Linked DNA regions of Homo sapiens. The protein of the gene in region 3 interacts with the protein of the main gene of each other region in a pairwise test. Each region holds a gene or a part of one and is shown on either strand. Other genes may lie near its edges.

The links.
Region 1: the proteins of PIAS2 (region 3) and HNRNPUL1 interact in binary tests that used the Homo sapiens proteins (3 or more experiments, as listed by UniProt).
Region 2: the proteins of PIAS2 (region 3) and NME7 interact in binary tests that used the Homo sapiens proteins (3 or more experiments, as listed by UniProt).

The regions. Positions count from the first base shown.
Region 1 is NC_000019.10:41,277,872-41,281,527, forward strand, and holds part of HNRNPUL1 (heterogeneous nuclear ribonucleoprotein U-like protein 1), read left to right. Parts: intron 1-1,205; coding exon 1,206-1,305; intron 1,306-3,291; coding exon 3,292-3,404; intron 3,405-3,656.
Region 2 is NC_000001.11:169,322,781-169,326,436, forward strand, and holds part of NME7 (nucleoside diphosphate kinase homolog 7), read right to left. Parts: intron 1,721-3,656; coding exon 1,613-1,720; intron 504-1,612; coding exon 337-503; intron 1-336. UniProt on the Homo sapiens protein: Possesses an intrinsic kinase activity. Displays 3'-5' exonuclease activity with a preference for single-stranded DNA. Does not seem to have nucleoside diphosphate kinase activity.
Region 3 is NC_000018.10:46,886,395-46,890,050, reverse strand, and holds part of PIAS2 (E3 SUMO-protein ligase PIAS2), read left to right. Parts: intron 1-3,656. UniProt on the Homo sapiens protein: Functions as an E3-type small ubiquitin-like modifier (SUMO) ligase, stabilizing the interaction between UBE2I and the substrate, and as a SUMO-tethering factor.

The DNA.
Region 1 (3,656 bases), on a different chromosome or scaffold from region 3:
TGTCTGAAAAGCCAGTGAGGCCACAGGTAGATACGGATATTCGGCAGTCTAGTCTTTTAATACGAAATTAAGTCAGAAGGCTTTTTTTTTTTTTTTAACTTAATACTGTATCTTGGACATTTTTCCATAGCAGTACATTAGCCCAATGTACTGCTTTGCTCCTTGTTTTTTGTTTGTTTGATTGTTTGTTTTGTTTGTTTTGTTTTGTTGACGGAGTTTCACTTGTTACCCAAGCTAGAATACAGTGGCGCAATCTCTGCTTACTGCAACGTCTCCCTCCTGGGTTCAAGCGATTCTCCTGCCTCAGCCTCCCAAGTAGCTGGGATTACAGGTGCATGACGCCACGCATGCCTAATTTTTTGTATTTTTAGTAGAGACGGGGTTTCATGATGTTGGCCAGGCTGGTCTCGAACTCCTGACCTCAGGTGATCCACCCACCTTGGCCTCCCAAAGTGCTGGGATTACAGGCTTGAGCCACCGTGCCCGGCCTACTTTGCTCTTTTTAACTGTTGCATCATATTTTGTGGCATGGATATACCATAATCAGTGCTTTATTGATATTTTTTCTGATGTTAAAATATATATATATATATATATGTGCACATATATACATCCAATGCTGCACAGAATGTTGCATATACAAATACAGTCACACATACGTAGACATACTTGTCCACATATTAGTGTATCTATAGGATGCTGAGTTATAGAGCATGTGCATTTATGGGGTTTTGTTGTTTTTTTCTTTTAATGTTTTTGTAAAGATGGGGTCTTGCTATGTTGGCCAGGCTGGTTCCTAACTCCTGGCCTCAAGCCATCCTCCTGCCTTGGCCTCCCAAAGTGTTGGGATTACAGGTGTGAGTCACCATCCCCAGCCATTTACAGTTTTGATAGAGACTTCTAGATTGCCCTCTAAAGACACTGTAACAGTTTATCTTTCTACTAGATGTTACAAGAGTCTCTTAAACTAAAACATAACCGTATTTTGAAATGCCTGTCTCTGTGGCCCTGTACTCTACTGATCCCTTTGGAGGCCCTGGCTTCGATTCGGTTCAACAGGCTTTTCAGAGCTGCTTAAACGCTTCTTCTCCAGCAAGAAAAGCCATTGCTATTTTTTAATGCCTGATATGCTTCCCTCCTATATTGGCTCATAACCTACGGCCTCCAGAGAAGCAACCCTGAGCCCTTTTGTCCTCTTTCCTCAGATCAATGAGGAAATCTCCGTGAAGCACCTTCCGTCTACAGAGCCTGACCCCCACGTGGTCCGTATCGGCTGGTCCCTGGACTCCTGCAGCACCCAGCTAGGTAAGGAGGGGTCAGCTATGCAGTCCAGAGAATAGAGTGACTGTCCCTACCCTTGGATTTTCAAGGCTCCTAAGCTTCCTTTTCCAGCGTCAGACTTAGAATAGAACTAGGCTGAAGTGGAACAGGTACAAGGATTAGGTATATGCCACTGTCTCTGTCATGCTGTATTCAACTGAGAGGACTATGGTCATGAAACAACTTTTCTGTGAAGAATCAATTCTTATCCTTCATCTTTTAGGAGAGGGTCCAAAATTCTCTTTAGGAATCTATTCCCTTTCTGTAAAAAGGATCAGTGTCTCCTGCCCTTAAACCAAGCTGCTGATAAGTTCCCAAGCTCCATTAAGTTCTGTCTGTATTTTCTGTCCGGAGCCTAACCTAGAGGAAAAAGGGGAGCAGAGACCAGTGAGGCCAGGGCTAGTTGGGAGAGGGGCAGGGGCTGCCTATTGAAAGGTTTTGAATTTTGCGGGTCCCCAGGCTTCAATGACCTTCTGGTCCCAAGTGACTGATTATTCTGACCAATGCTGACACCTCCTGCCTTCCGTTTATGATCATACAAACGTTCCAATTATGAAAATAATATGTGTTGCGTATAAGAATTCAGGCCATACAGAAAGGGAAAAATGAAAATCCTTCCTAAACCTGTGAGAGAAACTAACCAATGTTAACATTCCATTTGTAGTCTTCTGGACATTTATTTTTTTGTACATCTTTAAACTGGATCACACTAGGACTACTTTGTATAGCCTTGTTTTAATGTATGATGGGCATATTTTTGTAAATAACTGCAGCTTTTTGACTACTGCATAATTTTCCATTTTATAGTTGCATTATTTAACAAGTCCCCTTCTGTAGCTCATTTAAACTTATTGCAAATTTTTGCTGTTTTAACACTTGAGCCATTATCCTGGTCCATAATTGCCTGACCACTTAAGACTAATCTTTAAAAATAGATGATATTCTCACTCACAAGTGTTTGTTTAAAAAATATGTTCACATGGACTTAGAGAGTGGAATAATAGATAATGGAGACTCAGAAGTGTTAGGGGGTAACAAGGTGGAGGAGGATGAGAAATTGGTTAATGGGTACGATGTACATTTTTTAGGTGATGAACACCCTAAAAGCTTGACCACTATGCAATCTGTGCATGTAACAGAATTGCACATGTACCCCATAAATTGGTACCTCCTCAAAAAGGTAGATATGTTAGCACCAAAAAAAAAAAGTATACAGTTTTCATTTCCATATGTGTTAGCACTTTTTATTTAAGACTCATAAGTCATCTCATCTTATCTCTGTCTCCGTTTTGAGATGTAGGTGGTGGCAGTTGATAGGGATGGGGAAACAGCCCAGGAGGTCAAGCACCATATCCAGGGTCACATAGCTGGTTTGTAGCAGAACGAGCCCTGGCATTCATGCTTGTCGGCCCCTGCTTTTCTAACAGCATACTCTTTGGGTTCTGCCCGGAATCTCTAACTCAGGTGTCAGCCAGAGCCCTTGGGATCTCTCAGTCATATCACTTCAGCACCCAGTTCTGTAGCCTGAGGAAATCTAGTACCTTTCCCAGGGGTCAGTCCTCATGGTCTCCAGGAGCAAAATCCAGCCCCTTCACTGATTTCTACCACAAGTAGACTGGACTGAATATTGGGTGTCACAAGGAAGGGTTGCATCTCAGCATACAGCCATTCTCCTCCATCCCAACTCCTGTCTTCCTTCCTCCCTTTCTTTTCAAATTCTCCCCTCTGTGCAGAGTTATTCAGTTGAGCTCCTACTCCCAGACTGGACAATGAAACCCATCAAGCCCTCCAAGTTCTACATCATTAAGGGCTTCCTTTCACCCTTCCCCACCCCTATTTTAAAAAGGCATCTGATTAATAAAACTAGTAAAGAAAATGATTTTTTTCTTCAAAAATAAAAGTATGTGGCAGCCATTGAGGCTGTTATGACCATCGCAGGTTTAACCTGCCTTTGCCTATTTCTTCCGTCAGGCGAAGAGCCTTTCTCCTATGGCTATGGAGGCACTGGGAAGAAGTCCACCAATAGCCGGTTTGAAAACTACGGAGACAAGTTTGCAGAGAACGATGTGATTGGCTGCTTTGCGGTGAGTGCTAGCAGCCTGTGGGAGTTGGCAGAACCAGATGTTGGGCTACAGACTTCTTTTTCAGGATACCTCTATCCATTGTCTGCCCCATATCCAGCCACTCTCGCCATACTTCTTTGTCTCTGCTTGACAGACTGGAATGTTTACTGTCATTTTGTGGGAAATTCTGTCATTCCATCTCCTCTGGTCTTGTGTGCAAAGTTTTCAGATGACACCCTGAAGAGGTTTGGGGACTTCAGGTGTGCATAGCCT
Region 2 (3,656 bases), on a different chromosome or scaffold from region 3:
TGAAAACAGGGAGAAAGTGGAAAAAGGAAAGAATAGATCATAGATTTTAAATTGTGATTCATTAATTCGTTCAGCTAATACAGACAAGGTGCTTGCAATGTGGATGGAGATGTGCTAAGTGCCACAGGAGACATAAACATGAATTAAGTCAGATGAGACATGCACAACTATGGTATTATCAATTTTTTTTTAAATTGAAAAAAAGAAAAAGAATGAAGACAACCATTTTCCAGGTCCTATCCATCCTCATATGGTTACATACTCCCAGTCTTGATTCAGATTGACTTTGAACCCAAAGTTAGAGCATGTAAAAAGATTATATAATTGTTTTCTTACTTTTCTTTCCTACTGCCCAGCTGGCGAGCTGTATATTGATCCCCATAGTCAATTAATACCAGTTGTCGAGAAAAGACATTCACTTTGTTGCCTATAAATAAATCTTCCAAGTGCAGGTTATCATATTTGGTCCGCTTTAAAAAGGTGCGATGATTCTTTACATCATGCTAGAACCAGACACAACAATATAACAAACAAACAAAAAAAGTTATGAATAAGGAAAGTTAATCTCATCATAAGGTAGAAATAATTCTTAATTCTGTCTTATCAAAGATAGGTTATATTCTGTTTCTTTTTTGTTACAAATATAAATCATAATTTTTAATAACTTCCATATTTCCTAATCCAATCTGGTAATAACATAAAAGCTTCTTATTACAAATTTAATACTCTTAAAAACCTGAATAGAAAGATTTGTTTATTACCAAATCATTTCAGCAAAGTAGTCCTTACAAAATGCTAAAGAAAGAGTCATACACCCAAATTTCTGCTTTCTTGTGTACACAAAATCCCAATACCAAAAAGATCTACTTGTTAAAATTGTGTTGCCAGTGAAAGAACACAAAGAAACAGAAGTCTCTTAGCTTGAGCCTCTTCAATTTGACTTTTTGTAGCAATAACAGCTTTCAATAATGAGGACGTATTTATGACCATAATAATCCTTATCTATAATCACTTGTTTATTTCTTATCCAAAACATGAATAATCCCATTTCAGTCTTTTTTTTTTTTTTTTTTTTTTTTTTGAGACAAGAGTCTCATGCAGTCGCCCAGGCAGGACAGGCAGGAGTGCAGTGGCGTGATCTCAGCTCACTGCCACCTCCACCTCCTGAGTTCAAGCTATTCTCCTGCCTCAGCCTCCCGAGTAGCTGGGATTACAGGCATGTGCCACCACACCCGGCTAATTTTTTGTATCTTTAGTAGAGATGGGTTTTCACCATGTTGGCCAGGCTAGTCTCGAACTCCTGACTTCAAGTAATCTGCCTGGGTCGGCCTCCCAAAGTGCTGGGATTACAGGCATGAGGCACCGCGCCCAGCCCCCACTTCAGTCTTCTAACAACAACAACAAAAAATTCCTATTTTTGACATTAAAAATAAAGGCACAAGTTAACTTCTTATATTGGAATTATAATGAATAAGTTTAAAAAGAATTTCCATATGTATATATACACACACACATACATATAAATGTGTTTTTAAAAAGCAATTATATAAAAGGCAATGGTTCCCATGTTCACCCCCTTTGCCAACATTCAAGCAAAGAAAGGCTTATTTACCATTTCAACAGATCCATCCCCTGGGTAAAATAAAAGCTCATAACGTCGAAGAAGTGAAGCATTTGGATCATACCACTCTGCAATGAAAACGAATCTTTCACTATGATTCTGCAAAGAAAGACAGAAGAATTTTAACACTAACATATAAAGAACAAGCACTCTTCTGTAAGTCACACAAAATGAAATTACCAATATGCAAGAAACAAAATTACTTCTACCTATTATATTGAATGTTTCTGCTTTTCAACAAAGTATCAGTTATCAACACACCCTCAGCAATATTTCCTTTCAATTTCTCACTAAATACCCTTAGATATCTCAAAGATGACTTATGGATTGCTTTTTACTTTACAGCCATCTAATCATCCTGAGTAAATTAACGTTTTCTGAGAACATGAGCTCCTGATTTTACTATTGTAACAATTCAGTCCTTCTGAAAGCAAGTTTACATACAGACTATCAATAAACTAATATAAGAATAAATTTCTGAGGAGAGCTCTCAATTATATGAAGTTTTGACTTCCCTAAATTTGAGAATCTAGTAGTATCAGAATATTACCATTAAAATTATAGCAAACATTTTTTTTTCCTTAGTAATTTCATATGATAGTATCTTTTTATAGAAATAGAGAATGTGTTAGTCTAGGACCTCTGAAAATGAATGTGAAGACAAGATTGAACATACAAGAATTTCATTAAGGAAAATTCCCGTAATATAAAATGATGAGGGAGCCAAGGAAGACTAGAAAAGCCGATAAAAACAATAGAAGTTTGACACAGAGTGGTGGAGAGATGCAAGGAAGGTTAAGTGGAATCATCCCACATTGCTACACCCTCTAAGAAAGGTTCTGTAAGCCCATCAGGAAGTGCTAGAGCCAGGTGACTCCCAAGGACAGGGAGGGGCCAGCTTTAGTATCCCTGCTCCTCTCAATCAGTGGCTGGGAGCAGCCTTTGGGAAGCAAGTGCTCAGCACAAAAGCAGCAGTGGATTTCAGAGAACAGCAGCTGGGACCCTTGGTCACTTAGGTTGCCTGTAGTTGGAGGTCTGTGAAGTACACTCTTAGGGCTACCACAGAGAGCAAAAAATGAAAAAAATAAGTCAAAGATGGGTCCTTTTCCCTTGACTATTGAGCAGGACTTCCCATCATATATGTTAGTAAAAATACCCTCGCCCCAAAGATCTTCATTATAATAAGCAAATAAAAGCATAGGGAAGAAGGGAATCTAGGAGTTTTATTGCTAATTCTGGATTTGCCATCTGATGCTCTGGTTAGGGAAAATTTGGGGGTTCTTTTTAAGTTAATAATTGACTTATAAATTCTAATGGTAGAAGTTGTGTGTCTAATGATGTTTATAATATATCCATAAACTATAACGTAGATGACACTTTTATTTTTAAGACACTTTTATTTTTCCCACAATCATCCAAAGACATATTTAAACCATGCTGATTACTCAAGAGAAAATAAATGTAAAATAAGAGACATACTATGACATTTGTAAAAGCCTTTCATCATATATATTTTTCATATTGATTATAACAATACAGCTTTTTTGAGTTTAGGTTTCACTGTGCATTCTAGTATTGTACTCACCTACAAATAAAAATTTAAATATTAGTAGATTATTAAAATTTTTACTATCCATAATAAAATATTTATTTAAATACATAATTGAAATGTTGCCTTCACTAAAATAAATATAAAATAGAAGAAATGACACATCTAACTAAAGCAAATGAAAAATCCACGAAACCTGGTACTTCCATTTATCCATGTAGCCTATCCACCAAACCTGCCAACCACACTCTTTAATTCTGAATTGGGCAGCAGAATTTTGCACTATACTCTATCCAGAAAAGAGTTTTAATACAAAGAAAATAAACTGAGGAACTGTTGCTTCTGGCTATGACAAAGTAGCTCACAGCAAACCAATGCTACTTCTAAGAACAACTAGAAAAGTAGGATATCAAAGATTTGGAGAGCTTTTAAGGCAGCCAGGATCTGAGGATCCAAGATCCAGAAAGACAGGAAGCCCATTGAAGT
Region 3 (3,656 bases):
TTCTAGCATGCTGTAGTTTATGTTAGAATTTCTTTCCTTTTAAAGGCTAAATAATACAATAGTATACATTTTTAAAGAAAAATAGTAATCTTTTGCTCACTCCACTACTCATCCCTCAATCTCACTTTCAAGAGGCAACAACCTTAATTATTTTAGCTGTTTCTTCTGGTTTTACTTCTATATTTCTGTGTTATAGGATACCACATTTTGCTTATCCATTGGACACTTGGGTTGCTCCCACATTTTAGCTATTGCGAATAATTCTGTGGACACGGGTATACACGTATCTCTTTGAGACCCTGCTTTTCAATTCTTCTGGCTGTATACCCACAAGTGGAATTGCTGGATCACATAGTCATTCTGTTTTTAGTATTTTGAGGCATCACCATACTGTTTTCCGTGGCAGCTGCATTTTACATTCCCTTCAACAGTGCACAAGGGTTCCAGTTTCTCCACATCCTTAACAACACTTTTATTTTCCTTTTTTTTTTATAGTGGCCATTATAATGGGTGTCAGGTGGTATCTTATTGTAGCTTTGATTTGCATGTCTGTAATGATGGTGATATTGTGCATTTTCATGTGCTTTTTGGCCATTTATGTATCTTTCAAGAAATGTATAGCCAAGTCTCTTGCCCATTTTTGAATTGGTTTGTTTTATTGTTGTTGAGTTTTAGGAGTTCTCTGTATATTCTGGATATAATCCCTTATCAGATATATGAATGTGCAAATATTTTCTCCCACTCTGTGGTTTGCCTTTTTTACTCTGTTGATAGTGTCTTTTGATGTACAACTTAACATTTTTTCATGAAATTCCAATTTGTTTATTTTTTGTTGTTGTTGCCTATGCCTTTGGTGTCATATCCAAGAAATCATTGCTAAACTTCATGCTGTGAAGGTTTTGCCCTGTGTTTTCCTTTAAGAATTTTATAGTTTTAGGTCTTACATTTAAGCCTGATCTCTTTTGAGTTAATTTTCGTATATGGTATTAGGTGAGTGTCCAGCTTTGTTCTTTTGTTTGTGGATATCCAGTTTTTCCCCACCATTTGTTGAAAAGCCTGTCCTTTCCCTCACTGAATGATCTTAGCACCCTTGTCAAAAAGTATTTGACCATGTATGTGAGGTTTTATTTCCAGGTTCTCTGTTCCAAGGTCTCCAACCCTCAGGCCGTGGACTAGCACCAGTCCACAGCCTGTTAGAAACCAGGTCGCACAGCGGGAGGTGAGCAGCAGGAGGTGAGCAGCAGGAATTCGAGCATTACAGCCTGAGCTCCACCTCCTGTCAGATCAGCAGTGGCATTAGATTCTCATAGGTGCAGGAACCCTACTGTGAACTGTGCATGTAAGGGATCTAGATTGCATGCTCCTTACGAGAATCTAATGCCTGATGATCTGAGGTGGAACAGTTTCATCCAGAAACCATTCCCCTGGCCTGTGGGAAAATTGTCTGCCATGAAACTGGTCCTGGCCAAAAAGGTTGTGACTGTTGATTTATTCCATTGGTCTAGATGTCTGTCTTTATGCCAGTATCACAGTTTTGATTACCGTAGCTATGTAATATGTCTTGGAATCAGGAAGAGTGAATTCTCCAGCTTTAATTATTTTGTAAGATTGTTTTGGCTATTTGGGGCCCTTGAGATTCCACGTGAATTTTAGAATGAGTTTTTCTATTTCTGATAAAAAAAAAAAATTGGGATTTTGAGAGGAATTGTAGTGAATCTGTAAATTTGTTTGGGTAGTATTGATATCTTAGCAATATTAAGTCTTTCTTTTCCCACATAGGCTGATGGGGAAAAAAAAAATTAAGTCTTCCAGTACATGAACATGAGCTGTGTTTCTATTTATTTATGTGTTCTTTAATATCTTTCAGCAATGTTTTATAGTTGTTATTGTACAGGTTTTCATTTTCGTGGTTAATTTTGAAATATTTTTTCTTTTTGATACTATTGTAAAAACTACATAATTTCCTTTTCATCATATTTATTATTAGTTTATAAAAATGCAATTGATTTTTGCGTGTTGACTTTGTATTCTGCTACTTTACTGAATTCATTTATTCTAACAGGTTTTTTGTGTGAAATCTTTAAGGTTTACTGTATATAAGAGCCTACCATCTGTGAACAGGAATAATTTTACTTCTTTCTTTTCTGTTTGTATGCCTTTTATTTCTTTTTCTTGCTTAGTTGCTCTGGCTAGAACTTACTCAAGCATTCTTATGGTGTAGAAATCAGATTGCTTCCGTGTGAATGGGAATAGATACAAATCTTATTTATTGATCCTGATTTTGTATTTTGATACTTTTCATATTTTTATAAAGGGACTTACTTTCCATTTAATGTAGCTTTTAAACTGATTTTCTAAGAAATAAACCTTTTATATTTAATTTTATTTCTAAAGTGGCACAGGGAGTTTGACATGCAGTTTTTTAGCTTTTATTTAATGCCCATCAATTGCTTACAATGTGACTAACAAATTTTTGCATTGCTGTGTTATAATTCTTACTGCCTAATGAAGTTATTTACAAATATATTTGAATTTCTTTATGAAATAAATTGGGAAGTAACATTTCATAGTTGATGTGGAAGATTGCTTTCTTTTCTTTCTTGGGAAAACCCTTTTTATTTTCAGTCATGTGAAAACACTTAAACATATCAGTGTGCTTTTTTACCTGTCTTACAGGATTGTACTGCAGCCTGTCTTGGTTAAATCGGAAGGTTTTGAGGGGTAGAGCTAGTTAGTGGGGTTAGTATGGCCTGACTAGTGGCAGGCAATGTGGCTATTTTTTTTTTTTTTTCAATTTTTTGCTTTTTGCTTTATTTATGTTTTAGCAAAACTGGTGATCCAAGCAAGTGGAGTATTGCATTTTATCTCTTTATTACGTTCACTTTGAAATAAGGATTGAGTGTTTGTTCATGTTTTATTATTTGTTTGTACAAAGTCCTATGAGTAGAATTATTGGATCAAGTAAAAAGAACGTTTTAGACTCTTGATAACATATTGCCAAATTATTTTAGTGCCAGTTTAAATTCCACAAGCAAAGTGAGAGAATGCTTGTCATATCTCATTACTTTTTGCCTTTACTGGGTGCTATTGAAAACAGATCTCTGTGATTTTTAGATGAAAACTTGTATCTTGCTTAAATTTTTATTTTTAAAATTAGTAACAGGAGCAAGTATTTTATTTTATTCGATTTTATTTGTTTTTTTTTGGAGGGGGGGGACAGAGTCTTGTTCTGTCGCCCAGGATGGAGGGCGGTGGCGCTGTCTCGGCTCACTGCGGCCTCCACTTCCCCGGGTTCAAGCAGTTCTCCTCTCTCAGCCTCCCGAGTAGCTGAGGCTACAGGCATGTGCCACCACACCGGGCTAATTTTGTATTTTTAGTAGAGATGGGGTTTCGTTACGTTGGCCAGGCTGGTCTTGAACTTCTGACCTGAGGTGATCCACCCGCCTTGGCCTCCCAAAGTGCTGGGATTACAGGTGTGATCCACTGCACCTGGCCAACAAGAGCAAGTATTTTAAATGCTTATTACCCGGTTGTCTGTCTTTTATGATTTTACTTTCATCTTTAGCCTTGTTTTTAAAGAGTTGATTTATCTGGTTAACGTATTTCCCTAATTTGTTTTCTAATTCCTCCTTTATCATGGCATTTGGACAGTATCA